Regions from separate parts of the Homo sapiens genome. Here regions 2, 3, 4, 5 and 6 are each reported to be linked to region 1. The links are microRNA targets in miRTarBase. Many come from high-throughput screens and were not tested one by one. Region 1 holds a microRNA gene; each other region holds the end of a gene's coding sequence.
The links. Region 1 holds the annotated microRNA hsa-miR-4290 (UGCCCUCCUUUCUUCCCUC, at 2,630-2,648, opposite strand). A microRNA usually pairs through its seed, bases 2 to 8, with sites in the 3' UTR of a target mRNA and lowers its output. Matches are read on the target gene's strand: a 7mer-m8 pairs with bases 2 to 8, a 7mer-A1 pairs with bases 2 to 7 and ends in A, and an 8mer does both.

Region 1 (4,104 bases):
ACAGCAGATTATTTAGAAAACCCTCAAAGGTCTAGGGATGTTGTGTTTATTCAACATGTAGATCCAAATGATAAGGAATGCCTGATTAACTGTGGACATTATCATTAAATGAAATGAAAACTGAATTATGCACAGTTTTCTGGAGGTCTTGATTCATTTGATTATCTTCTGATATTTTCTGTTGCTTTTTGTGGTTTTGTGAGTTGTTGCAGGTTTTGATGGCTTAGGTAAGCAAGGGAATGGAGGTGCTACCCAGCAGTGAGATTGTATGGAGATCATTGGGAGGACAGGAAAACAGCCTGCCATGGTAGGTGTGCACGATTAAAATTAGGTCCAGAGTAATCTGGAAATAAGACAGCCTTGGAGGAAAAGGAAATCCAGTTTTCTGTTGAAGCTGCTCATTGAACCCCCGACGAGGTCACGGAAATAGCCCCTAAGAACACACGAGGCTCCATAATCGGTGCTAACATCTTATGACTTGCAAATGCACTGTGTTCTAGGATGCATAACAGGTTCTTCTCAGATCTCAACTCAGGACACTATTTCAAGAAAAGTCTCGTTACTCTTCTGTCAAGGACCCGCGGCGAGACTCCCGTGTGCCGCATGCTGCTGGGTCTCCATCCTGCTGGCAGCTAGTGTTGACCTAAACCTGCATGCAGGGGTTCTGCTGGGGTGAAAATGGAATAAGCTGCTTCCTTCCTCATGGGCAGGGAATGCACAGTGCCTGGTAAGCAGAGAGAGTTACTTGTTTAAAATTTCACTGTGCTGAAAGAGCTAGTACCAACACAAAAATCACAAAACACAAACCGGTTAAGTACAGAATGTCTCTCTCTGGGCATTCACTCTCAGAACAAAACAACATTGATGGAAATAGCCAAGAAGGAAGGGTGAAATATTTGCAAGCAGACAGGCATGAGGGCTTGAAGATATATTTAGGCTTCAGCTCCACCTTGCCTGGAAAATTTCTCAGTTACAGTAAACGAGTAGGGGACACAGCACCTGGATGACCAGGTTCTGAGAGTCAGCAACGGCTCAGTGCTGGGACATGTGGGCAGACCCACTGCCCCTGTAAACTCCTGTCTTCACCATGAGCATCTGCAATCCAGCAAGACCTGGTGACCCTCATGCCTGCACACCATGTTCTGTAACCTGGATTTCCAAAGGAGACCATGATTTCATTTAAATGTTTTTCCCCCACATATTTTTCCCTACAACCTTTTACAAATTTTCCCTACAACCTTTTACAAAGATGGTTCTGGAATCAAAAGCCAATTGATAGGCTTAGTAGAATTCTATCCTAAGATTTTACTGAACCAGACAGACTTTTCTTTAATAATGCCTGCCTAGCTGGCCTGAGTCCTGGGGATAAATTGTGAATTAAGTGTCACCATGTAGATAAAGATGCACAGCATCAGATAACTTCAGAGTAGTGCTACCGGACTGTGCCTTCATCTCATAGACTGAATGTTGTATCCTCCCAAAATTCATATGTGGAAGCTTGAACACCCAGTGTGGCTGTATTTGGATGCAGGGCCTTTACAGAAGTAAATAAGGTTAAATGAGGTTATAAGGGTGAGGCCCTGATCCAATAGGATTAGTGTCCTTGTAAGAGACACCAGAAGGCTTCCCCCACCTCTTCCTCCATACACAAAGAAGAGATCACATGAGCATGCAGGGAGGCTGTGGCCACCTACAAGCCAAGGGCAGAAACCTCAGAATGAGATCTACCTTGCTGGCACCTTGATCTTGGATGTCCAGCCTCTAGAACTGTGGGAGATACATTGCGGTGTCTACGCCACCCAGTCCATGGTATTTTGTGCTGGCAGCCTGAGCTTACTCACACACTGCATGAGTAAGCATACGTCTCCACTAGGTGTCTGCAGTACTAGTGATAACTGTAAGAACTTAGATTCACCATGCAGTAATGACTTGCTGAGTTTAGATTTGCCATCCAGTGATGACTTGCTGTGTGCCTGGCCCTGTTAAACACTCTAATCTGTATTTGTTTCTCCTTTTGCTGTGGGACATTTTCCTTCCATGTTCTTGCTGAGCCCTGGTCTGCAGTCTGTAGGGAATCTTGCACATCAACATGAAGACAATGTGCTATGCTCAGACAGGCTGATGTGGCATTGCTTTGTTGAAGCCATAACAAAAAACTGGGCTGCAGTCTCAGTTTTACATGTTTCATTTCCCTTTGGATTCATATAAATTTGACAGATTGTATTTCTGTGTCATCCCAGCACTGGGGGTCATGTGACAATCCTTTGGGTAAAAGTTGATCATGTAAACTTCCTGGGTTCACAGCCCAACCACAATATCTTTGGAATGAAGCTGTCCCAGCAGCAAGTTTATAAAATGGTCACTTATGGCATGGGACTTGTGGGGACAGGGGAAGAAAACCCCATCTAGAGACCTTGCTCCCAGTGATTTCTCTTCTCTCTTTAACCACTTCACTCATTTGAGTCTAGAAGGTTCTGGAAGATTCTGCCTTGAGTAAGTGATACCTGGACTCACTCTCTGCTTCCATTCAGTGGAAAGCTGAGTGGTCGCTGGGAACAAGCTACTGCCACATGGGCCATGGGATAGGTGCCTTGACAGGACCAGGGCTTCGAAGAGCGGGGTCAGAGGTGAGGGAAGAAAGGAGGGCAACCCTCTACCACCTATTTTGGTGGGATTCAGATTGGGACTGACCCTCCCTTCACCTTCTTGGTGGCAGCCCACCATGGGGCCAAGGGCTGTGTTCCTCTCTGCTCAAATCCCTCCCTCGTTTCCTCTTTCTTTGTCCTCCTATTTCAGTTCACACCAGCAAATACACTGCTCAGACTGTTCATGTGGCTATGGGACTGAGGGCTGAGGGTAGAGCTAGAGATTCTGTTTTGACCCCAGGTGTGTTTGACCCATCAGGTTGGCCAAGCCAACTTTGCCAATTGGCGAGGTGAAAGCCAGCACACCGTCCCCCTCCTGGCAGCCCAAAGTCAAGGCATCCTTTGCAGTTCAAGCAAGAAAGCAGAGAATCCTTCAGTCCTCAGTGTGGGACCAGTACTCCCCACTCCACAGCTGCGAAGGGACGCAGTCTGCATTGTTCAGGTAGCTAGACCTACAGCATCACTTTTTCAGGGTATCATGCATAGCAGTCACATCTCTCTACAGGAAATGTAAACCCACGGCCCATTAGGAGGGTGTTCTCCTGTGTAGACACAACACTGCCAAGAATTTTGCCAGGCGTGGCCTGATCTACAAAGTAGCGTCAATCTGCAGGAAGGAGCTCTTAATATTTGAGCAACAAGCAGCTAATTTCCCCTTTCTTTTCTAAACACAGTTTGAGTGAGGGTGTGATGATTTGGAAGAAACCCAGGTAAGCATGACCTTATTTAAGAAGACAAGTTTGATAGTCAAAGTCCCAACCCTGAGTGCTTCAAAAATGAGAGAAAGATCTGTGTTCCAGTCCAGATCTGCGACTAACTTATATGTTAAGTTTGCTTGGCAATTGAACTGGTACCTTTTCTCCCCTCGATTTACACTAGATAGGCCTTAAATGTGGAGTCTAGAAAATGAGAAACAAAAGAGTGATGCCAAAAGTCATTATTAATGACAATAGAAATTTTCTGTAGGAAATAGTCATCTCCCCTTCATTCTCATACCATCCATCATTTTTCCTTGAAAAGCTATTCCCCCCTCCCTTCCTCCCAACCACTCTGCTTCCTTCTATCCTCCTTTCTTGTCTTTCTTTTTCACTTCCACCTTTTATTCAGCCAGTATTTCTCACGTGTCAGTGTTGTTCTTTTTCACTTCCACCTTTTATTCAGCCAGTATTTCTCACGTGTCAGTGTTGTGCTAGGCTTCAGAGGAACAACCAGAAAGGCATGCGTGTTCTGTCCTTCAGAGCTCTCTGTCCTCCCAGAGCTCTCTGTCCTCCCAGAGGGGTCTTGATGGTGCTGGTAAACTGTGCTAAAGCTGCATGGAAGCTGGGCTGGGAGCTGAGGGACACAGGCAGGGGCCACCTAGCTCAGGGTCTGTGTGAGTATGGGGCGGAGGCTCTCATGGGCTTCCTGAGGAGGGGCTGCCAGATCCAATTCTCAAAGGCTGACAAGGACACAGATGGGC
Region 2 (4,104 bases), not on the chromosome of region 1:
AAAATAATAATAATAATAATAAATCAATGGGTTGGGCACGGTGGCTCACACCTGTAATCCCAGCACTTTGGGAGGCCGAGGCAGGCAAATCACCTGAGGTCAGGAGGTCAATATGGTGAAACCCCATCTCTACTAAAAATACAAAAATTAGCCAGGTTTGGTGGCACAGCCCTGTAATCCCAGCTACTCAGGAGGCTGAAGCAGAAGAATCGCTTGAACCCAGGAGGCGGAGGTTGCAATGAGCCAAGATCACACCACTACACTCCAGCCTGGGTGACAGAGTGAGACTGCATCTCAAAAAAATAAAACAATCAAGCAGTGCTGATCCTGCGAGTCTCAGGGAAGGAGACCAGAACCAGATATCTTGGTATCTTAGGAAATCAACGTTCGTTAAAGGTTCAAGTAAGGCCAGATAGGATTATGAAAGTGGCACACTGCAAGTCAGAGAAGACTAACTGGCTGGAGTGATTTAGCAGCATCCTAATAAAACCAAAACAAAACACCTGGGCACCCAGCTGTGACCCATGTTATTGCAACAGTCTCCCAGTTGTCATCTTATCTTTAGTCTTTCCAGCTTTGCTACTAACTTTCAGGCTCTAGACTTCCTGAAGTCTTTTGTCTTATTCAGGCATCACTATGGCCTGAATATTGGTGTCTCCAAAGCTCATGTGTTGGAAACTAATACTCAATGTGATAGTATTAAGAGATGGGGCCTTTGGGAGGTGAATGAGATTGGTGCCCCTGAAAAGAGGCTTGAGGGAGTGCCCCTTCCCTTTCTGCCATGCGAGGACACAGCAACAAGGCGTCACCTAAGAAGCAGAGCAGGAACCCTCACCAGACACTGAATCTACCTAAACCTTTATCCTGGACTTCCCAGCATCCAGAACTGGAAGAAATAAGTTTCTGTTGTTTATAAATTACCCAATCTAACACATTTTGTTACAGCAGTCTGAACAAACTGATATAGGAGTATTGGGTATTGGATCCTGGGCTTAATATGTATGGTCTTGGTGCAAATTTTGGCAAGAACTTAGGCTTATACACCGAAAGAGCAATAATACTTTATTTAAAATATATACAAAATTATTACTTTGAAACATATATATTACTGTCCAACATACATCATATAACACTGATTGATGTAAATTTTGGTACCTTCATTTATTCAGTTGTGATTTCCCTTTTGTTCAAGGCTCCTGAAGAAAATTATCTGAAATGCCCACCAGAGGGGAGGTGCCCATGGGCTTGGTCCCCTTGGTGACTTGGCTGTGCTGTTGGGCACTACTGAGGCCCTAGAGCCCTGCTCCATGGAGCTGAAGGCAAATCCCCACCTTGCTGGGGGACCTGGGGACACAGAATTGATGGAACCCACCTCCGTCGGTCACACATCAATTGCTCATCTTCTCCCTCTCTCTCCATCTGGGTATAAACAGGGAGGGAGGTGAGGGGGAACAAGTGTCAGTTATCTTCTTAACCCTCCTCTGGGCTGAAGAGGAGGGTTAAGAGAAATGATGTTTTCCCTTTCACCCCCCTTTCTTCTCTGCCCATGTTACCACTACTGCGGGAAGAAAGTATGAGAAGGAGGAGCTGGCTCTTAATGCAGTTTAGAAAGAAACGGGAAGTGAAGCAAAAATGGGGCTTCTGTGCTCTTAGGCTGAATTTGAGTTACCATGATCCTGAGATAAATCAGACAACTGCTTTTGGGCATGGCCTATGATGCCTCATTCATCACTATCTCCCGCACAGTGCCTTACACCTAGTAGGCACTTAATGCATGCTCTTTGCATGGATGAATAAATGAATGCAGGGGATCTGATGACTACAGACAGAAAACACACATTTCAGAATCAGAGTGTTTGAGAGATGAAAGGGGACATTGGAAATCATCTAGATCTGCTTCCTCATTTGGCATATGGGGAAACTGAGGCCCACAGAAATGAGAAACGATCAAGGTCAAATGACTAGTTCCTGATAGAGTCAGACCTGGAATCAGATTTTCTAAATCTCTCCTTAAATTTCCCACCCTCTTCAGATCTGGAACAATAAAGAGAGCTCAGTGGGCTCAGTGCTATGCCCTGGACTCAGGACCCTCATATGCCAGTGTGGGGACCCCTGGTGGTGGCCGAATAGAGCACAAGCAGAGAAGCCCCCTTTGGGCAACTTCACTTCTGGGATCTGGTCCCAGTAGGTAAACAGGATGGCAGCAGTGGATCTGAATGAGGTAGGAGGAACACAGAGACCAGTGGGGACCCCGAGAATTGGGCTCGTTGGTGTGGCACCTGCAGCGGGTCCAGTGCTGAAGTGGATTTGGTGGGTTGAAGGGCTCTGGAGCTCCAGGGTGTCCAAAGGAAATGTGTAAACTAAGCCCAGCCTGCTCACTGCTGACACTGAAAGCAGGTCACTACAGATGCTTGCTCAGCGGGTGAGCTATAGCACACTGGATATGGATGGGAGGAAAACGAAGGGAGGCAGGGAGAGGGGTGGAGGAAAGAGGGAAGGGCCAAGGGGCTCTCCAGCAGACAGGGAGGCCTAGTGGCCTCAGGGTGCAGGGACGGGGTGGGCCCAGCAGGTGGGGGGCGCTGGGGACATGCAGGAGTTCCCGGATGTGCTTCTCACTTCAGCTGGGCTGCCCAGGACCTTCTCTGGGCTTCAAGCCTCTGAGGCCTCCCATGCGTCATTGCAGGGAGCTCAAAGCACAGAGGCTCACTCTGCTTCCCCGTGTGATTTTGGTTTCTTTCTAGAAAAGATACTTAGGCATGGGAAGAAATGCACATCTGATCAACATAAAGAACCTCATGTGAGTCCCCACACACCACAAACATCAATAGCTGAAGAACCCTGGTGTCAAACAAAATGAATGAACACCCAGGAGCTCACACCTACTGGGGTTTCTCAGGGTTTCTCTTGAGCAGGTGCAGAGAGGGCTCGCAGGGCAGGTTGAAGCTCTTGTGACTGACCAGTCCTCCTGCCCCACACTCAACCAGCTTCATTCCCTGTTGCCCTCCTCCTCCCTTTCTGCCCAACTTCTGCACTCCCCAGCCCACTCCATTTTTGACTTAATGACGTTGCAGTTCCCATCAGCCCCATATTTGGCTCTCTGCAAAGAGAAACAAAAATAATTCATCGTGCCAAAATTTGAAATTTGGGAGCTGCAGCTCATCTGATTACAAATGAGTACCTTTGTGCTTAAATTGCCACCACAAAGTGCAGACTATGACCAACATGCCAGGGAACAGAGCAGGACAGATCCACCCTGGGACTGGGGCTCAGCTGCCCCTTCTCTGTGGCCCCCTGACCCCCTAAACCGCAGACTGGTTTTCATTGCACACGTAGACTGTGCTTGGCTGGATTCTCCTTCGGATCCGCTCAGGCACTTTGGGGAGGATTTGGAAGGTCTGGGGCAGCAACTCTATGCAGGCCTCGCGGAATTTTTTGATTCTCCAGCAGTAGACGATGGGGTTGAAGACGGACTTGAGGTAACTGAGCCACAGGACGCAGGTGCTGGTGGCGTAGAAGGAGGAACCGCAGTAAAAGCGCTGGCTAAACACAGACAGGAGGCTGTAGACGGAGTGGGGCAGCCAGCAGAGGGAGAAGCCCACGAAGAGGATCAGGATGGTGGTGAAGGCCTTGGTCTTGAAGCTCAAGTCCACGCTGACCTGTTGCTGCCGCTGCAGGCGCCGCAGGCCCGCCCTGGTGAGCTGCCGCAGGTCCAGGCTGTCCGACTGGTTGTGCACGCGCACGGCGTTCTTGCGGACCGTGTTGAGGATGCACATGTAGGCGCACAGCATGACGCCAAAGGGCGCGAAGAACACGGCCACCACCAAGGTGACCACGTAGGCGCGGTCAGCGGGGAGCTCCGTGTAGCCCAGCACGCACTGTGGGGCCCGCGCCGGCACCTCCACCAGCGTCCAGCCCGTGAGCGAGGGCCCCGCGATGCAGAAGGACAGCACCCAGGAGACCGCGATGATCACCTTGGCCCTGCGCGGGTTCAGCTTGTCCTGGCGCTGGACGATGATGAGGAAGCGGTCCACGCTGATGATGAGCAGGATGGCCACGCCCTCCAGGACAAAAAACCAGTAGAGCGTGGCTGAGAGGCGGCAGAAG
Region 3 (4,104 bases), not on the chromosome of region 1:
GCTCACGCCTGTAATCCCAACACTTTGGGAGGCCAAGGCAGGCAGATCACCTGAGGACAGGAGTTCAAGACCAGCCTGACCAACATGGAGAAACCCCATCTCTACTAAAAATACAAAAAAATTAGCCAGGCATGGTGGCATGCCTGTAATCCCAGCTACTTGGTAGGCTGAGGCAGGAGAATTGCTTGAACCCAGGAGGCAAAGGTTGCGGTGAGCCGAGATTGTGCCATTGCACTCTAGCATGGGCAATAAGAGTGAAACTCCATCTCAAAAAAAAAAAAAAAAAGGAAGGTGGCGGGGTTGAGCACATTGTCAGTGGTTAGGGTTAAATCACCTTTTTCTAATAGGATAGCTTCATATTTTAGGATTCTTGAATCTGTAAGCCATCTCCCTGCTTTTTGGCTAAGAATGGTTTTAACCTGATGGGGTGTGCTTAGGATGAGACTTCCCCCAAAGGTTATTTTTCTACTTTCCTCTGTCAATAAAACAGTTGCTGCTGTAGATTGGATACATTCGGGCCACCCACAGGTTACCACGTCAAGAATGTTTGACAGAAAGGCTGTGGGCTGGCAATGGCCCCATGCTTTTGAGTGAGTACTCCTATAGCTGCCCCATTGCTTATATTAACAAAAAAGTGAAATGGCTGTTCTAAGGATGGCAGAGCTAAGACAGGGGCAGTTATAAGTAGATGTTTTAGTTCCTCAACTTGCTGGACTTCTTGTGGGGTCCAAAGAAGGGGGTCAGGCCCTTCTTGGGTAAGTTTTAGATATAGAGGTTTTGTTTTTAAGGCATAAGAGTCAATCCACAGGCAATAATTTCCAGCTAGCCTGAAGAATTTTCTAAGTTCTTGTTTTGTCTCAGGCAGTGGCAGGGATATGATCCCTTCCATTTGTTCGGGCCCTATCTTCGGCTTACCTTTGCTTATTAAGTGCCCCATGTGTTTTACCTCAGGTTCTACAAGCTGGAGTTTACTTTTTGAGACCCGTAACCATTGTTCCCTTAGGAAATTTAGAAAGCTAATTAAAATTGCGGTTACTTGGTCTTTGGTGCCTCTGGAAATGAGCAGGTCATCCACATATTGGAGTAGACATAAGGATGATGAAAGAGGGAAATTCTCTAGGACTTGTTCCAAACTTTGACTAATAGGTTTGGAGAGTCTGTAAACCCTTGGGGTAGAACTGTCCATCACTACTATTGCTTCCAACTGGAATGAGGGTCTTCCCATTCAAAAGCAAATATGTCCCAGCTATCCACAGCTAAGGGGCAAGCCCAGAAGTCATCATTGAGGTCTATTACTGTGAACCACTGGCAGTCATGAGGGATCTTGCTGATAATGGTGTAAGGGTTAGGAATGACAGGGTGGGTGGTCTGGACTATTTGGTTAATGGCTCGAAGGTCTCGCAGTAGCCGCTATGACCCATCCGACTTTTTTACAGGCAATATTGGAGTGTTGTAAGAGGACATATGGGGTTCAAGAAGTCCTTCCTGAAGGAGACCTTCGATTATAAGTTATAAACCTATTCTGCCTTTCAAGGGAATAGGGTACTGTTTTCTCTTTACAACTTCCCCAGGATTTCTTAATTTTACATGGATTGGAGAAACTTGTAATTTTCCCCAATTTCCTTCCTATGACCAAACGTCATCAGAGTGGATTTGGCTCTCCTCTAGGGTGGTAAGTAAGTTTAAGGAAGTAGAGAATTTTCCTTGATTAACGTATAGACCTATACCTAATTTTGTCATTAAGTCCCTCCCCAACAGGTTTGTCCCTGCTTCTGGAATTAACAGGAATTTGATGCTAGCTAATTAGTCCTGATACCTGACTTTGCAGAAGCCCACAGGCTGAGGCCAGGAGGTGGTGCTGGGGAGGAAGGCAGAGAAGATGAGTGATCAAGAGAATGCCAGAACTTTTCTCTTACTGTTGTTTTACCAGAAGCCACTTAATACAATCAGACAATTCTTTAAGAAAACTGCAGAGTGCCTTGTTCTTCCAAGAAACTTGGTGCTGAAGAGATCTAGGAAAATGTGTAAGTGACTGTGTTCTAAGAGGCATTTTTTTAAAGAGTTTGACTGGTGTTTGCCAGTTTCTGGCTATTATCTCTTTCACAGGTTCTAGAATATAGGTCTTATTGGCCTACTAGCGCTAACCTGTTGAAGTTTATTGATGAATCTGCAGGGTGCCTGTGAGGAGAGCTTCACAGAGATGGCCAGACCCTGGTGAGAGAGAGTGACATCAGTGTCATTTTACACCCTGCAAAGGAGGGGCCGTATTTTCGCATGAGAAGAAGGCACATTGGTGATTGGTGGTATTGAAAGCTTATAGCAAGAAAAAGTTCTGTTAGAAGAGCTTCTGTTTCTCAGAGCTCCAGAAGCTTTCTTCTGGGAGACCCTTAATAGCATGACCTGCCATCAGGAGAGGAGGCTCAGACAGCTTGCTTTTGATTCCTGGTGAAGGGTGGGTTTGTTCCAAGTAGGAAAAGCAGCTTCTACTGAGGCAGGGACTCTACCTCCCCACTCTTTACAGAGTCCCAGAAGCTTATTGCTGATAGGGACGTTACCCTGGCTCAAGTCCTTCATGGAAGAGACCAGGAACTAATGGCCAGGAAGCCTAAATTACTTAGCAAATGTTTGGGCCAAGCCATGATTTGGACTCAGCAAGTCCAGAGATCCTGCCTTTACATCATCATCTTTTGTTTTCTGGAGTGCTGGTAGGTTAGATCCCAAACTCTGAAGTACTGTCTGTGTTAAAACACTTTTTCCCCATCCCATTTTGAGCTAGCCTCTTCCTCACCAGGCCCATGCCCTTTCTCCTAATTCGCTTTAAAGAGGCAACAGCATGCAGTGAAAGGACCTCTGAGTTTGTATCAAACAGACCTGGGTTCAAAGTTCTGCTTCCCTGTTTCATAGCTATGTAACCTTAAGCAACTCACTTACCATCTCTGAGTCTCTGTTTCCTTGTCTGTAAAACAAGGACAACAGTTAACTTTCTGGGACCTAGCATTCAATAGGCACTCAATCAGTGAGCATGATTCCCTAAGGTGGAAGAGTTTGTATCACCTTCGGGATTTCCAGTGGGTTTAGGGTGTTTTCTGCCATACTCCCAGTAGACTCTATACCTTCTGACTACCCTGGACCATAAAGGAGCAAATAAAAAAGACTCAAGACTGAACACAACACAGAAATGGGTCAAAAGAAAGCTCTTTATTGATTGACTCAGCAATGCAGGGCTGGCACCCATCAGCTTCAAACCACATCTTATCGCATCCACTCCTGTCCACTCCCGTCCACTTTGCCCTCTTCCAGGCTGAAATCTTGCTTTCAGGCAAGGGCTTCCGGCCAGCCTTGCATTAGTTCTCAGCTATGGTCTTCTGAACCCAGTGCTGGATGGAAGTCACCTTCACATACACACCATACTCAGCCACAGCACAGCTCTTATCAAAGCTTAGGATCCCAGCCGCGTACCAGGTGTCCTCCTCCAGGTCGTGAACGGCAAAGGCACTGCCCGCATCGCCATAGCAGGTGTCTTCCTGGTACTTAGACATGCCGACACAGAAGGTGTGTTCGTTCAGTATGGGCTGCACCCCTACAGGGCTCTTCGGTGCCTTCCATTTGGGGCATGTGCTGCCTTCATAATGCGTTATGCAATCGTATTGGTCAGCCACAGGCAGCATGACATACTTCAGATGGTCAGTAAGTTTAAAGTTGTCACTTTGTCCCCAGCCAGACACGTAACCCACACGCCCTACTTCTGCATAATTCTTTGAAGGTAGGCAGATGGGCATCACTCTCTCATTAACAAGCACCTTCTGTTTGAGTTTGATGAGCCCAATATCTACCTGGTGGTAGTTAGGGTGTAGAACCACCTTCTCAATCTCTACAAGCTGCTTTTTCCCCACATAGAGTGTTAAAGTAGGGGCAATGTCTTTCGCTGTTGCATTTTCTGAATGGTTCAGGAAGAGATTTTTAGCCGTGGTCAGCAGCCATTGTTCATTGATCAGCGTGGCCCCTGTGGTGAGATTATGGTGGGAAACCATCTTAGCCTGCCAGGGAAAGCTGCCTTTGGCATCCAGGTGTCCACCCAGGATCCGCTGCACTGGGTTTGCCGGA
Region 4 (4,104 bases), not on the chromosome of region 1:
CATAGAATCAAGTGATATGAGCCTTAGATATCTTTCAACTTTCTCCCTTGCTTCTCTGTGATTTAATATATAACTTTAAGACACCAAAAAAATAGGGGCAAATAAGAAACAGCTTTTATATTTTTGCCAACTACACTAAAACACAGTGGCTTCTTTAATACATTCACACAGGATGCTAATTAGTAAAATTAAATACCTGCCTATGAATATCAGAAAAGTAATTTGAAAAGAAAGAGCTTGGAACAAGGCAAATGGGAGGGGAGGAAAAGCTGGTCTCAGAACCCATTGTGCCATACCTGACTTCAACATGTGATATTCAAACGAATGTTCACACGCCTTACATCAAAGAAATGAAACAAAAATATTCAGCTATGTTATTATACAAAATTTTTTTTACATAAAACATCATAAATCTGGAACAGATTTACTATATCTGAATTCTAAAAAGTTGCCTATAGAATGGTGCTGGGATTCTGTTCTCTGCTTGCTTTTAGGCAGTGCTGTTGCTTAAAAGTTGACACCAGGCACAATATTTTAAAACAAAATCAACGAGCAAGGAGCAGTAGGTGGATCTGAGCCTTTCCCAGATGTCAGGCCTGAGGATGCTGCAATATTCCCCATCAAAATGTGTAAAGCTATGAGGTGGATACTGATGCCTGAGAGAGTGGGTGACTTGACATGCACTTGTATGACTGTAATAATGGCAAACAGTACAGTTTTCTCTTCCTCAAACAATACTGTTTTAGTAAATTTTAAGAACATTCCGGTTCTTAGACAAATATCGAAATAATATTTAACAGTTTTAAAAAAACATGTATCACATTCTAAAAATGCCCAGATTTTCTTTTATCTTCTGATTAAAATATGCAGCAGCCCAATGGCATAAAGCTTAACTCATTCTGATAACTAGAAAGTATATGAGCATATATATTTTACTTTCATTGAATATATATATATATATGTCATTCACCTCTTCCTTTTGGCTTCTCACTGCCAAAGTTCCAAATGGCATGCGGTTTAACAAGACAATGCTGAGGAAAGCAGCATTTCTGATCATCTGAATTGGCAGCTCAAAACAGATACCACTCCTTTTACAAAGGGAACAAAGGGTGAAGGGTATGTGAAATTTGGGCAGTGGGCTAAAGGGAAACCGTGCACATGAAATTTGGGTTACCATGCCCCAAGTGTGTACCACCCAAAACATAACACAATTACCTACTTCAACAGAGCTACTACCAACATTTACTAAAACCACATTAAAAATACACAGGATAATGAATGGTTTGAAAGAGCGCATTTGAAGCAGAGAGAACCCAATTACACACCTTCCTGCAACAGAGTGCCTCGATCATACACAAAATAAACTTAAGCTGTTTACAATGTTTCCCATTTTTTTTTATTTTTTCCCTCTACATTTAACTATTAAAAAAGTTTTTTATTAATAAATGGGCTCCTCTGTGGTTCATATACAATCATAAGTGAACTTTAAATTCCATTTTATACAAACATCTCAAAAAATATTGGGAGTGAAGTATGGTAGGAAATATTGCTCACATTGCTAATTAACATGCGTATATGAAAGGAGGAAAATGTTTTGTTAGTGCATATACCTCCAGAGCAGAAAACCCACCCAAAACAAAAGATCTAAAATAAAACATACAGTAGCTGATTACAAAAAAAGGTAATGTCCACAAAATTAAGTTTTTCATGCTATTCTACTTTCCAGTACTATGCTTCAGGTAATCAATTTGCATGGCTAGATGTTGGATACTTGAGGTATATAAGAAGGGAAACCTGCATGTTGAGGAAAATCTGTCATCTTAAGGGTTGTTTCTTTTTGTTTGTTTATCCTGGTACTTTAACATTTTTAAAAGATATTTTATTTACATCAAAATTCACTGAACTACAATGACATTCCAATTATAATAGATGACAAACAACGCCTCTATCACTAGGCACTTTTAAAAGGGAGTTCAGGCTTTACAGAACCCTTCTGATGCAATCCCATGTATGATATGACATCATCCCACCACCCTCGTCCCACTAAAATTACCCTCTGGGGAAATATTACCTTATATAGCCTGATTAATTTACTATGGAAGAAATTAGCATAAAATGACCAAAGTAAATGCATCATTTAAGACTAATAAAACAGCCGAAGATGTCAGGTTTGAAAGAGGAGACAAATTGTGTATATTTAAAACTAATTAAATAATTTAAATTTGACCTATACTTTATATATTAGTGAGACACAAATATAGGCTATTGTCTTTTAAAATTTCATTCACATAATGGAAAATTTCTTGTTTATTAAAAATATCACATTTTGAGACTAGAAACAGTAAAGTGCATGAAAAGTTTAAAATATAAATTTCAGAAAACTCTTATAGCAGCAAAAAAGCAGAATAAAGAAAAACTTAAAAACACAGACACAACCTTTTCCTGTTACTGTGCCATAATTAACATCAAGTAGCCAACCAATTTTTCCCCAGAAAACAGTATTCTGTTCACTGCCTCTTGAGTCACAGATTTTCAACTGGCCCCTCCTAGGCAAAAAAAAGATTCCAACATACCTAAAGGCATCAACAATTGGGAATAAACCAGTAGCTTCTTAATTCAACCCTGACAGACAACTGAAACAAAGATTAAAAGCATATGATGGCCATTTGGCAGCTAGAGTCAGGAAAATGACCCAACGTTTTCAACTACTGCCCCAAATTTGTTCTCTCTCCCAAATCCTTTGCACTGTCATCTCAAGAAACCAACAGCCACATAATCTATGTTGGAAACACATAAAATATCTGTATGATTTTCCCCATCTGAAACTTTGATCAAGGCCTTTTTATTCAGCAGACTTTTTTCTTCTTTTAACATTTGACTATAATGGCAAAAATGACATAGGTCATATAACATCTGTTTTCCTGGCACAACCAGACAGAAGGTTGAATTGGAATAAGGAAAAATTCATTCCGTGGGCATCCTAAACATACCACATTCTATTTTCAAGGTATGTGGCAATACAGATTACTTACTTTTTCTCTATAAATAAACTTGAGAGACAGGCTTAGAATTAATACTTCCAATAAGGTTATATATAAAGGACAAAAAAACCAAAGTGATTCCTCAAAAAAACTCCAAACCAGCATTTGGCCAACAAATTGTCATGTGGTGTTACATGCTGGATTATAAAAGTATACTGTGCAACCATCTTTAATTTTTCAAATTTTCTTACCATGTATAGAGGCTATATCATAGTTTATGGACTGAACAAGTAAATTTAAGTACTCTGTTAATGTGCAAATGACTTTGGAATCCAAAAGTCAGTTATAAAGGAAAAATTCAAGGTTTTCCCTGGAAGGCATATCATCATTCAGTTTAAAATACTGTATTTATAGTTTTTAAAAATTGCCTTTTATAAAATGGTTGGCTCACTGAAACCATTCAAAAGAAAGTATTTGTTTTGGAAAAACAAATACACTGTTATTGGGCCTCAAATTGGTAATTTATCAATTTTGAATGCTGGCTGTTAATACAATATAAAGAAGGTCCAATTTAAAAACATGTTAAATTAAAATTTTGTAAAGAGAGTAATACTTTGGTTCCAGCCCTACTGCCAAATGATACCAATATGCACAAAAATGTACAAAGTCTTACAGCAAACACATAATGAAAGAAACCTGAAGAAGCAGCTTAAGGATGGCCATACTTCACTCCTACATACTTTGATTTACAACTGTACAGGTCCATAGCAACAGATCCCCGTCTTGGCGGGGCAGTACTCCACTACCTCCGATTAGGCAAGTGAACACCATTGACAAGAGGCAGGAGTGGAGGGTGGAGTTCAAGTTGTGTTAACAGTGAGAAGTGGTCTGAAGGGATGTGAGGGTGTGGACACCCAGTGATGTTGTTCTCAACCAGCCATTGAGGATCTAAAGGCCCCAGGACACCAAGCACGTTCATATGAGTCTTGGAATAGAAAATGTAGTCAATCACGCCCTGGAAAGAGATTGGGAATAGGAAAAAAAGAAAAATTCAAGATATATAAAGAACAATCCATAATTTATAAAAACCAAAAAACTGACTACCCTTTCTTCTGGTACCTGT
Region 5 (4,104 bases), not on the chromosome of region 1:
CCCGACAGCGTCCTCACCGCCCCGACAGCGTCCTCATCGCCCCCACAGCGTCCTCAACGTCCGCAGCGTCCTCACTGCCCCGACAGCGTCCACAGCGTCCTCACCGTCCCCACAGCGCCCTCACCGCGTCCACAGCGTCCTCACCGCCCCGACAGCTCCCTCGCCGCGTCCACAGCGTCCTCACCGCGTCCACAGCGTCCTCACCGCCCTGACAGCTCCCTCGCCGCGTCCACAGCGTCCTCACGGCCCCGACAGCGTCCTCACGGTCCCCACAGCGTCCTCACCGTCCCCACAGCGTCCTCACCGCGTCCACAGCGTCCTCACCGCCCCGACAGCGTCCTCACGGTCCCCACAGCGTCCTCACCGCCCCCACAGCGTCCTCACCGCGTCCACAGCGCCCTCACCGCCCCCACAGCGTCCTCAGTGTCCACAGCGTTCTCACCGCCCCCACAGTGTACTCATTGTCCCCAATGTCCTCATTGTTACCTCCAGCGTCGTCAGTGTCCACAGCGTCCTCACCGCCCCCACAGCGCCCTCACCGCCTCCACAGCGTCCTGTCTACAGCGTCCCCATTGTCTCCACAGCCTCCTCACTGTCCACAGCGTCCTCACCGCCCCCACAGCGTCCTCACCGCGTCCACAGAGTCCTCACCGCCCCCACAGAGTCCTCACGGTCCACAGCGTCCTCACTGCCCCAACAGCGTCCTCACCGTCCACAGAGTCCTCACCGCCCCCACAGAGTCTTCGCCATCCCCACAGCGTCCTCACGGTCCACAGCGTCCTCACTGCCCCCACAGCGTCCTCACAGCATCCTCAGTGTCCCCACAGCGTTCTCACCGTCCACAGCGTCCTCACCGCCCCGGATAGCGTCCTCACCATCCCCACAGCGCCTTCACCGCCCCCACAGCGTCCTCACCGCCCCTACAGCGTCCTCACCGCCCCCACAGCGCCCTCACTGTCCACAGCGTCCTCACTGCCCCCAGTGTCCTCACTCCACAGTGTCCTCACCGCCCCCACAGCGTCCTCACTGTCCACAGCGTCATTGTCCCCACAGCGTCCGCAGTGTCCACAGCGTCCTCACTGCCCCCAGTGTCCTTACTGTCCCCACAGCATCCCCACAGCATCCTCACTGCCCCCACAGGGTCCTCAGTGTCCCCACAACGTCCTCACTGGCCCCCACGTTATCACTTAGCATCTCTCTCATGCCTTCCCATGTGGCCTTTTGGGAGTGTGTCTGGAAGGGGAGAGGTCACCCACTGACTCCTGTCTGCCCCTGAGGTTAGGGTGGGCATGTGAGGATGTGTTTGTGTCCCCTTGAACCGCCTCCTGGGGCCTTTTCCTGAGTTTGGCGAGGGGAATTTCCAGGTCAGTCGTGCAGAGAAGACCAGATCAGAAGGGTTTATTCAGCACCAGAGTTTGGAAGGGAGACGCAGCAGGGTCTGGACCGCATTGTGCCCCATGGTCCTCCCAAGCCTGGAAGTGCGGGTTCGCCTCCCTCGGGGTAGGGTGGGCAGGAGTTCTGTCCCACGTGGTCTGGGCCTGCAGGTGGGGTGGGTCTGAGAGATTGGGCAGCGGAGGAGGCGGGGACCGGTCCAGGTTGGCGCGAGGGCCCCTCGGGCAGGGTCCTGTCGAGTTTGCAGGCCCGTGTTGCCCAGCGCCGGTTCTCTCCTCAGGACGCACCGGTTCTCTCCTCAGGACTCGTCGGTTCCGGCTCGCTCGGCCACCAGCGGGTCGGTCAGCGACAGCCGGGCTGCGGCGCGAGCGCGGGCCCGGGCCCGCAGCCTCCGCAGGCGGCACAGCAGCAGCACCAGCAGCAACGCGTGCAGCAGCCCAAGGCCCAGCAGCGCAAGCTGCGCCGCCAGCGCCCCCCAGCAGAGCGGGCCGGGAGCGCAAGCGGCGCGCAGCTCGTCCTCGGCCAGATAGGGCAGCAGGCGGCCGCGCAGCGCTGGGGGCGCCACGCAACGCAGGTCGCGGTAGGGCGCACGCTCGGGGCGGCCGGCCAGCCAGGCGCGCAGCGGCACAAGGCGGCAGTCGCAGCGCCAGGGGTTGGCGCCCAGGTGTGCGGTGCGCAGCGCGGGCAGCGCGTCCAGCAGCCCCGGCGGCAGCGCCGTCAGGTTGTTGCCGGTCAGCACCAGCTCGGTTGTGTCGACAGGGAAGGCGGTCGGCAGCGAGGCCCAAGTCAGCCCGCGGCGCCCGCAGTCCACGAGCGTCCCCGCGCAGCTACAGGGCGCCGGGCAACCTGCGGCCGGGCGGCTCGGCGGGGCCAGCAGCAGGAGCAGTAAGCTCAGCGCCCCGCGCGGCCCTGCAAGGGAAGCGCCGCAGTAAGCCGAGCGGTCGGCGGGCACCTGGGCGACATCTCTGAGTACCCAGACTGCCGGCCCGGCTCCATCCAGCCCCTGATGCCCGGCGTCCCGGTAGCCCGCCAGCCTCTCCACCCTGACCACCCCGCACGCCGGCTGGAAGTCCCCTCTAAGTCTGACCCAAGTCTCTCCCAGCTGCAGCCAAACGACCAGAGCTCCTCTCAACCCGGGTCGGCCTAGGGAGCAGCCGGGGGCCCGACCGGACTCCAGACTCACCGGAGCCCATGGCGAGAAGACGGCAGCCCGGCTTACTCTGCAGCGGGAGGCGTAGGCGGGAGAGCCGAGCGATAAGGCCGCCCCGCCCCTGCCACGCCCGCACCGACCACAGTGCTGCGGCCTGGCCAGAAATAGCCCAGAGGCCGCGCGGACGCGCGCTGCAGCGGCAGATAGCACACTATCGCCGGAGGCCGCAGGCCGCTCAGGCTTCCGCTCCCACCCGCTCTCAGGGGCACACGGAGCACTCGGACACCCGCTGCGACGTTCACCAACATTGTTCTCCTGTCACCAGGACAGGACGCGGCATTCACAACGGAAGAAAACGGAGCATCGTGTGGCGGGAAGGGATCATGCGGGTGGGAACATCGGGAGGCCTAGGCTCAGGATCCCGGCACACCACAGCGGTGCTGGGGAGAAGAGGCCTCGAGCGAGGGCAGGGGACGGCACCGAGAGTTGCCAGGAGGTGGCTCACCGCCCAGTGCCCCGGGGGCCCTCCAGGTCGGGCCGGGCTGTGGAGAAGGGGTGTAAGCGGTCACGACCCCGCTCCTTGCAGCCTCTGGCCTCCTTATGTCTGGAGGGCTCCCATTTGATTCAGCCCAACCCTGCCCGCTAGGCGTCTGGGGATAAGGGAAGACTCGGCCCGCCTCGACAGAAAATGGGGTCTCAGCACTCGCTGGGTGACCCGCGGGAGCAGGCAAAGGAGGGCTCCCAAGTCCGTTCTGCAGCACTGGGGCAGGGAACAGACCCAGGATCCTGGGAATCCTCTTCTGCCTAGCTTTGCCTGCCTGCCAGAGCAGGGCCTGCGGTTTGGGTGCTGTGACCGTCCGGGGGCGGGGGAAGGGCAAGGGAGGCGGATCTCTGAAGTCCCGCCCAACTTCGCTCCTGATCCCCCAAGGTCAGAGAGGGCCAGCTGGGCGGGGGCTACGGTCCAGGCCCCTCGGAAACAGACACAATGACCTGGGAGGGGGTGGTGCTGAGAATAAATTAGGGTCAGCTGGGGGCTGTGGCCCCGCGTCTCCGGGTCGGGAACAGTCCGGTCTGGTGTCCAGGGGTGCGAGGGCGTCCCGGAGACGGACGGTGTGTCCGCGGCGAGCGTCACTGGTCCTGCATCTGCTGCTTCATCCTCTGCAGCATCTCCTGCATGCGCCTCAGCTGCGGGCGGAGACAACCCGGCGGGTGAGCAGCACCGCGGAGGAGCATCCCTGACGCCCGCCTCCGCCGCCCCCGCCGCCCCACATACTTCCTCATCCTTCATCCTGATAAGCTTCTCAGTCTCGGCGTCCGGGGTGGGCAGCGGCAGGATCGGGATGGGGCTCTCCATGCGGCTGTCCTGGGTCAGTTTGCTGCGCGGGGCGGGGGGGAGGATGGGCGGGGCGGCGCCACCGGGAGGCTCAGCGTGGGCTGGCGATGCCTGGCCCATCCCCGCCACTGCTGAGGCCCTGCCCTCCGGAGCCCTCACAGCCCTGGACTTGGTTCTAGGGAGACCAGGCTCTGGGGGAGGGGGGGGGCTTAGGGAATGGTGCAAAGTT
Region 6 (4,000 bases), not on the chromosome of region 1:
AAATGGGAAATCTTTCTTCTTAAAGTGGCCCAGACTGAGACTTTTCCTTGGGGAAAAGGGTTAGTAGCTCTTTGTAAGGCTGGTGTGTATGTGTGTGTGTATATATATATACATATATGCATGATGCTGTGCAAATGCCCAGGGCTGTCTGGCATTTTCCACAAAATGAGAGCCTGAGATTGCCTAAGCCTTCTGATGCCTTCTCCAGGCCTGGAGGCACTGCTTCATTCAGAGGACACAAAGGCCTGACCACCTGGCTTTAGCAAGCTAGGACACCCAGGGTGGCTTCTTTACCTTTCTCCTCAGCTCTGAGAAGGCTGCTAGCCAAGACTCTGGATTCTCTGTGGCCACAGTCATATGGTGAGGGCCTCTTGGAGTTCATTCAAACTTTAAGGGAGCCCCACAGCACCGGCATGATGGGTAAGTCCAGGCCTAAGGTTAGGAAGCAAATCCTGGAGCATGAGGAAATTGTAGGCTACAGTGAGCTACCAGTGGTGTGCAAACTGGAGACCCCCAAGACAGTGAGAGAGGCCACAGCATCTGAGGGAATGGAGCTCTTTCTTGGCCTGAGGTTCAGAAGAACCTGCACCAAAGAAAGGCATCCCTATCAATGTCACTGTTCCTGAAATGATGGGAGAACCACATCCCTGCTTCAGGGAAGCAGTCCCTGTCGTCTGGGGCGCTGAGCCCTTTGGCCTGAGATGAAGGATGATGGTGTGATGTATCATGGCAGTGTGACTGAGACTGGATTGGGGGATGGGGACAGGGGAACATAGGCAAAAATACACATGTGCCACTGGATCCTGAGCTGCCATTGTACCTTGGAGGACTGGCGTTTCTCTGGGAAGTTGGGAGGTGGGAAGAGGAAGGGTCTCATTTTCCTGCCCCTTGAAACCATGCTTACCATTCCTTTAGAAGATTGCTCAAGCTGCCTCCAATTGCCTCTTTCCAAAACCAAAGCATAGGAAAACAAGTAAAAACAGCTGAGGCTGCAGCATAAGCAACTTAGGATAGAGTCTAGGAAGCACCGCCAACAGAGAAGACTGCCAAGAAACATTTTGAGTTTTTCTTCTCTGGAGGTGGGTCCTGGTTCCTCCCATGGAGACCACGATTCTGTGTAGTCCTGCACGCTGGGCGGGGGATTGCCTGGAGGTTTCTTTAGACCTGTCTAGCTCACACAGTCTTGATGCCTGGGTTTTAGGCTGCTGTACTGTTGCTGGGGCTCACTTCCTGTGGGTAGGCTGTTATTTTGCCCGCAGATCAAGTCCTCACTGTCTAGATGCCTCTATCATGGGGATCTCTTCTTCCCTCTCTGGATGGCTCTGATCCCCAAGTTATTTCCTGTTGCCTAGGTAACACCTCTAATTGGATGCCTTTTAATCGTTCCCTTTTTTAAAGGGATAAATGTGGATTTTATTTCCAGGTCCTGTCAGAGGGCCCTGCCCTAGAGAACACGTGCGCCCCTGCGTGGGCAATCCCTTCACTGTGACCGCAACCATGGGTTGGATGGGGGGCACTCACTGGGCTGGCCTGACAGTCACAGTGAATCCTGAAAGCATGGTTTTCACAGGAACCCACCTTCAGGATTTAGCAAGACTGACGTCTCTCCTGGCCAGCGCTGCTTCACTGGCTTCACCCCAGATTAGGGCCTGTGTTTAAAAACCAATCCCAACTCAAATCAGAAATTACCCAAAATAGCTGGAGAGTCACTGAGATCTCAGGTAAGCTTTCCCTTCCTGCCATGAACTAGAAGGGGAAAGAAGAGTTTGACATTCAAGTTTGACTCTAATGCTGGGTGCGTGAGCGCATGCGTGCATGTTTGTGTGTGTGTGTGTTCCACGCACATTTGCCAGGGAGAGAGATTTCACAGCATGGCTCCAGCTGGAGGCGGTGAGGCGGTGCTTTTCTAAGACTTCCTATCAGAAGCTGTGCATACTGGTGGGTCACGCCGTGCCTGTATAAACTCTGGCACCTGTCCTTGCCCTCATCATATATGAGAAAAATGGGCAGAGAGAGTGTTCGTTTACACCCCCAGACCACTATCCTTTCAATGAAGCCTGGGTATCTGGCCTTCCTCCAGGTCAGGGACCCCCTATGCTGCAGAAGGCAAGTCTGGGAGAATCTGTCCCTCAGCCCGAGAGCAAAACTGTAATCCTAACATTACTTCCATCCACCAGTTTCACCAGCTACCTCCCTCCTGCCTTCCTCTGCCTCCAATAGGCTGTGCATGGAGAAGACAAATCCTCTTGATAAACAATATTTAGAAAGGGATTCTATCTTTCCTGACCCCAAACACATCATGGCCTCTGGAGCCAAATACCCTGACATTTGCAAGATGGCTTCTTTTGGGTTCCTGGTGCTGCAGGCCCTGGTTCCCAAGGACGCAGCTGGCAGAGGTGCCTCCTTCAGAGGAGGAGGAGGAGAAGCTGGAGGGCTGCGCCCGGCAACCCCATGATCTCTTAAAGGGGGAAAAGTTGAACTGATCAACAGTAGTTAAGAAAAAAAAAATCCACACCAACAAATAAATATCTTGTCTGAGAAGACTCAGATATTCCTGGTTAATATTGAAAAGCACTGCTGTGGATGAGCTTGTGAAAGAAAGGACGGTTGGGGGATTCAAGATCTGCCGATCCGAGCCTGGAGATCAGCCAGCTAAAAGCCCAGCAGGGCTCCTGCAGCCTCACCGCTCCCCTCCTCACAGGTGCCCTGGACCGCCCACCATTAGAAGTAGCTGCCCTGTGCTCTGTGCTAAATGGACTAACTCTGAGCTGAGAAAGGCCAGCTAAGCCCCTCACCACTGCAATTTCCAAATCTGGGGGAAATGCCACAGTCCGCAAGTTGGTGCTATGTTTCATCTCATTGCATAATACTACACCATTCTCTGTGTGTAGTGGCTGTTCTATATATATACATCGGGAGGCAACATATGGCTGTCCCAACCCCCACCTGTCAAAACTGTGACTATATCACTTCTGACGACCAGAAGGAAGCTGCTAGGCTGGGCCAGGATTCTAAATGCTGAGGAGGTAATTCAGAGCCACGAAAAGTTGCACCATATGCTTTGGGGTTGCCGGCTGCTTCTGTGCATGGGGACGGGGTTTAGTGCCAGTCTGCAAAACCCTCCTCGCTGCGGTATGCCCTGGGTGTGGGCCTGGGGGGCCACGTTTTCTCTCCCTGAAGGAGAATCTGCTGGGGGCCACGGTTCTCCAAGAGGGGACTCACAAGGAACACAGGCGTCCCCAAAACCTGCCCTTGATAACATCAGGCCTGGCCAAATAGTATTTCTTTAAAAAAATTTTTTTTGTTTCATTTTATTGGATAAAGATTAAGAAAGCGCCAGCAGTGACTGAGAGAAGCAAACCACGCCCGGCGGCCCCGCGGCCTGGAGAGGGTCCCCGGCGCGGGCGGACGGGCGGTCTACCTGGAGGCGCTGGTCTCGGCCAGCCGGTTGTTCATGATGCCCAGCGCGCCCACGCCGCCCGAGAAGCCGTTCTGGCGCGTGTTGACGCACACGCTGCGCGGGTAGCCGTTGGCCGTCTCCGACAGCTGCTTCTGCAGCAGCGCCAGCGACACCTTGTTGGAGGCCGTGAGGTCGCGCATGGAGATGAGCTCGCCCGAGAGGCGGCGGCCCTCGGCGTCGCTGTCGCGGGCCGCGGGGTCGGCACCGAGCGCGGCCAGGCGGCGGCGCAGCCGGGAGCCTGGGGTGATGGCATTGCGCCGGGCCAGGGGCGCGCCAGGAGCCGGGCAGCAGCGCGCGCAGCAGCGGCAGCTCAGCTTGCGCAGCATCCAGTTGAGCACCTGCTTGATGAGGATGGAGATGACGTTGAAGAGCGAGTAAATGCAGCACACGCCGAGCAGGATGAAGAGGAAGTTGCCCAGGCGGTAGAGCCCCTGGTTCCGGTAGGCGGCGTGCTGGCTGCTCACCAGGTCCCCGAAGCCGATGGTGCTGAAGGTGACGAAGCAGAAGTAGAGCGAGTCCACGTAGTCCCAGCCCTCCACG

Region 2: the mRNA of GPR45 is a reported target of hsa-miR-4290. Seed matches in the 3' UTR shown: 8mer at 2,998-3,005.
Region 3: the mRNA of HPR is a reported target of hsa-miR-4290. Seed matches in the 3' UTR shown: 7mer-A1 at 3,288-3,294.
Region 4: the mRNA of CNOT6L is a reported target of hsa-miR-4290. The part of its 3' UTR that is shown has no 7-base or 8-base seed match.
Region 5: miRTarBase lists SEPTIN5 as a target of hsa-miR-4290. Seed matches in the 3' UTR shown: 7mer-m8 at 3,065-3,071.
Region 6: the mRNA of KCNK12 is a reported target of hsa-miR-4290. Seed matches in the 3' UTR shown: 7mer-A1 at 1,980-1,986.

Annotation. Positions count from the first base shown.
Region 1 is chr9:90,020,822-90,024,925 of GRCh38, forward strand. MIR4290 (microRNA 4290) reads right to left here and starts at 2,714; the gene lies at 2,620-2,714. MIR4290HG (MIR4290 host gene) reads right to left here. Exons shown (of 4, transcript NR_038882.1): 3 at 3,742-4,104; 4 at 1-724. RefSeq lists an enhancer at 4,066-4,104.
Region 2 is chr2:105,242,173-105,246,276 of GRCh38, reverse strand. GPR45 (G protein-coupled receptor 45) reads right to left here. Exons shown (of 1, transcript NM_007227.3): 1 at 2,810-4,104. The coding sequence ends at 3,300. Among named protein-coding and RNA genes, the nearest start is that of GPR45, 2.5 kb to the right of the region's middle.
Region 3 is chr16:72,076,322-72,080,425 of GRCh38, reverse strand. HPR (haptoglobin-related protein) reads right to left here. Exons shown (of 5, transcript NM_020995.4): 5 at 3,180-4,104. The coding sequence ends at 3,345. Among named protein-coding and RNA genes, the nearest start is that of HPR, 15 kb to the right of the region's middle.
Region 4 is chr4:77,716,648-77,720,751 of GRCh38, forward strand. CNOT6L (CCR4-NOT transcription complex subunit 6 like) reads right to left here. Exons shown (of 12, transcript NM_144571.3): 12 at 1-3,996. The coding sequence ends at 3,784. Among named protein-coding and RNA genes, the nearest start is that of CNOT6L, 100 kb to the right of the region's middle.
Region 5 is chr22:19,722,051-19,726,154 of GRCh38, reverse strand. SEPTIN5 (septin 5) reads right to left here. Exons shown (of 12, transcript NM_002688.6): 11 at 3,816-3,918; 12 at 2,836-3,727. The coding sequence ends at 3,671. GP1BB (glycoprotein Ib platelet subunit beta) reads right to left here and starts at 2,616. Exons shown (of 2, transcript NM_000407.5): 1 at 2,576-2,616; 2 at 1,384-2,301. The coding sequence starts at 2,585. The coding sequence ends at 1,691. SEPT5-GP1BB (SEPT5-GP1BB readthrough) reads right to left here. Exons shown (of 12, transcript NR_037611.1): 10 at 3,816-3,918; 11 at 2,576-3,727; 12 at 1,381-2,301. RefSeq lists enhancers at 1-139, 1,735-2,512, 2,513-3,291.
Region 6 is chr2:47,517,490-47,521,489 of GRCh38, forward strand. It overlaps KCNK12 (potassium two pore domain channel subfamily K member 12), which reads right to left. Exons shown (of 2, transcript NM_022055.2): 2 at 1-4,000. The coding sequence ends at 3,418. It also overlaps a transcript of MSH2 not described here. Among named protein-coding and RNA genes, the nearest start is that of MSH2-OT1, 8.0 kb to the right of the region's middle. RefSeq lists a silencer at 3,450-3,719.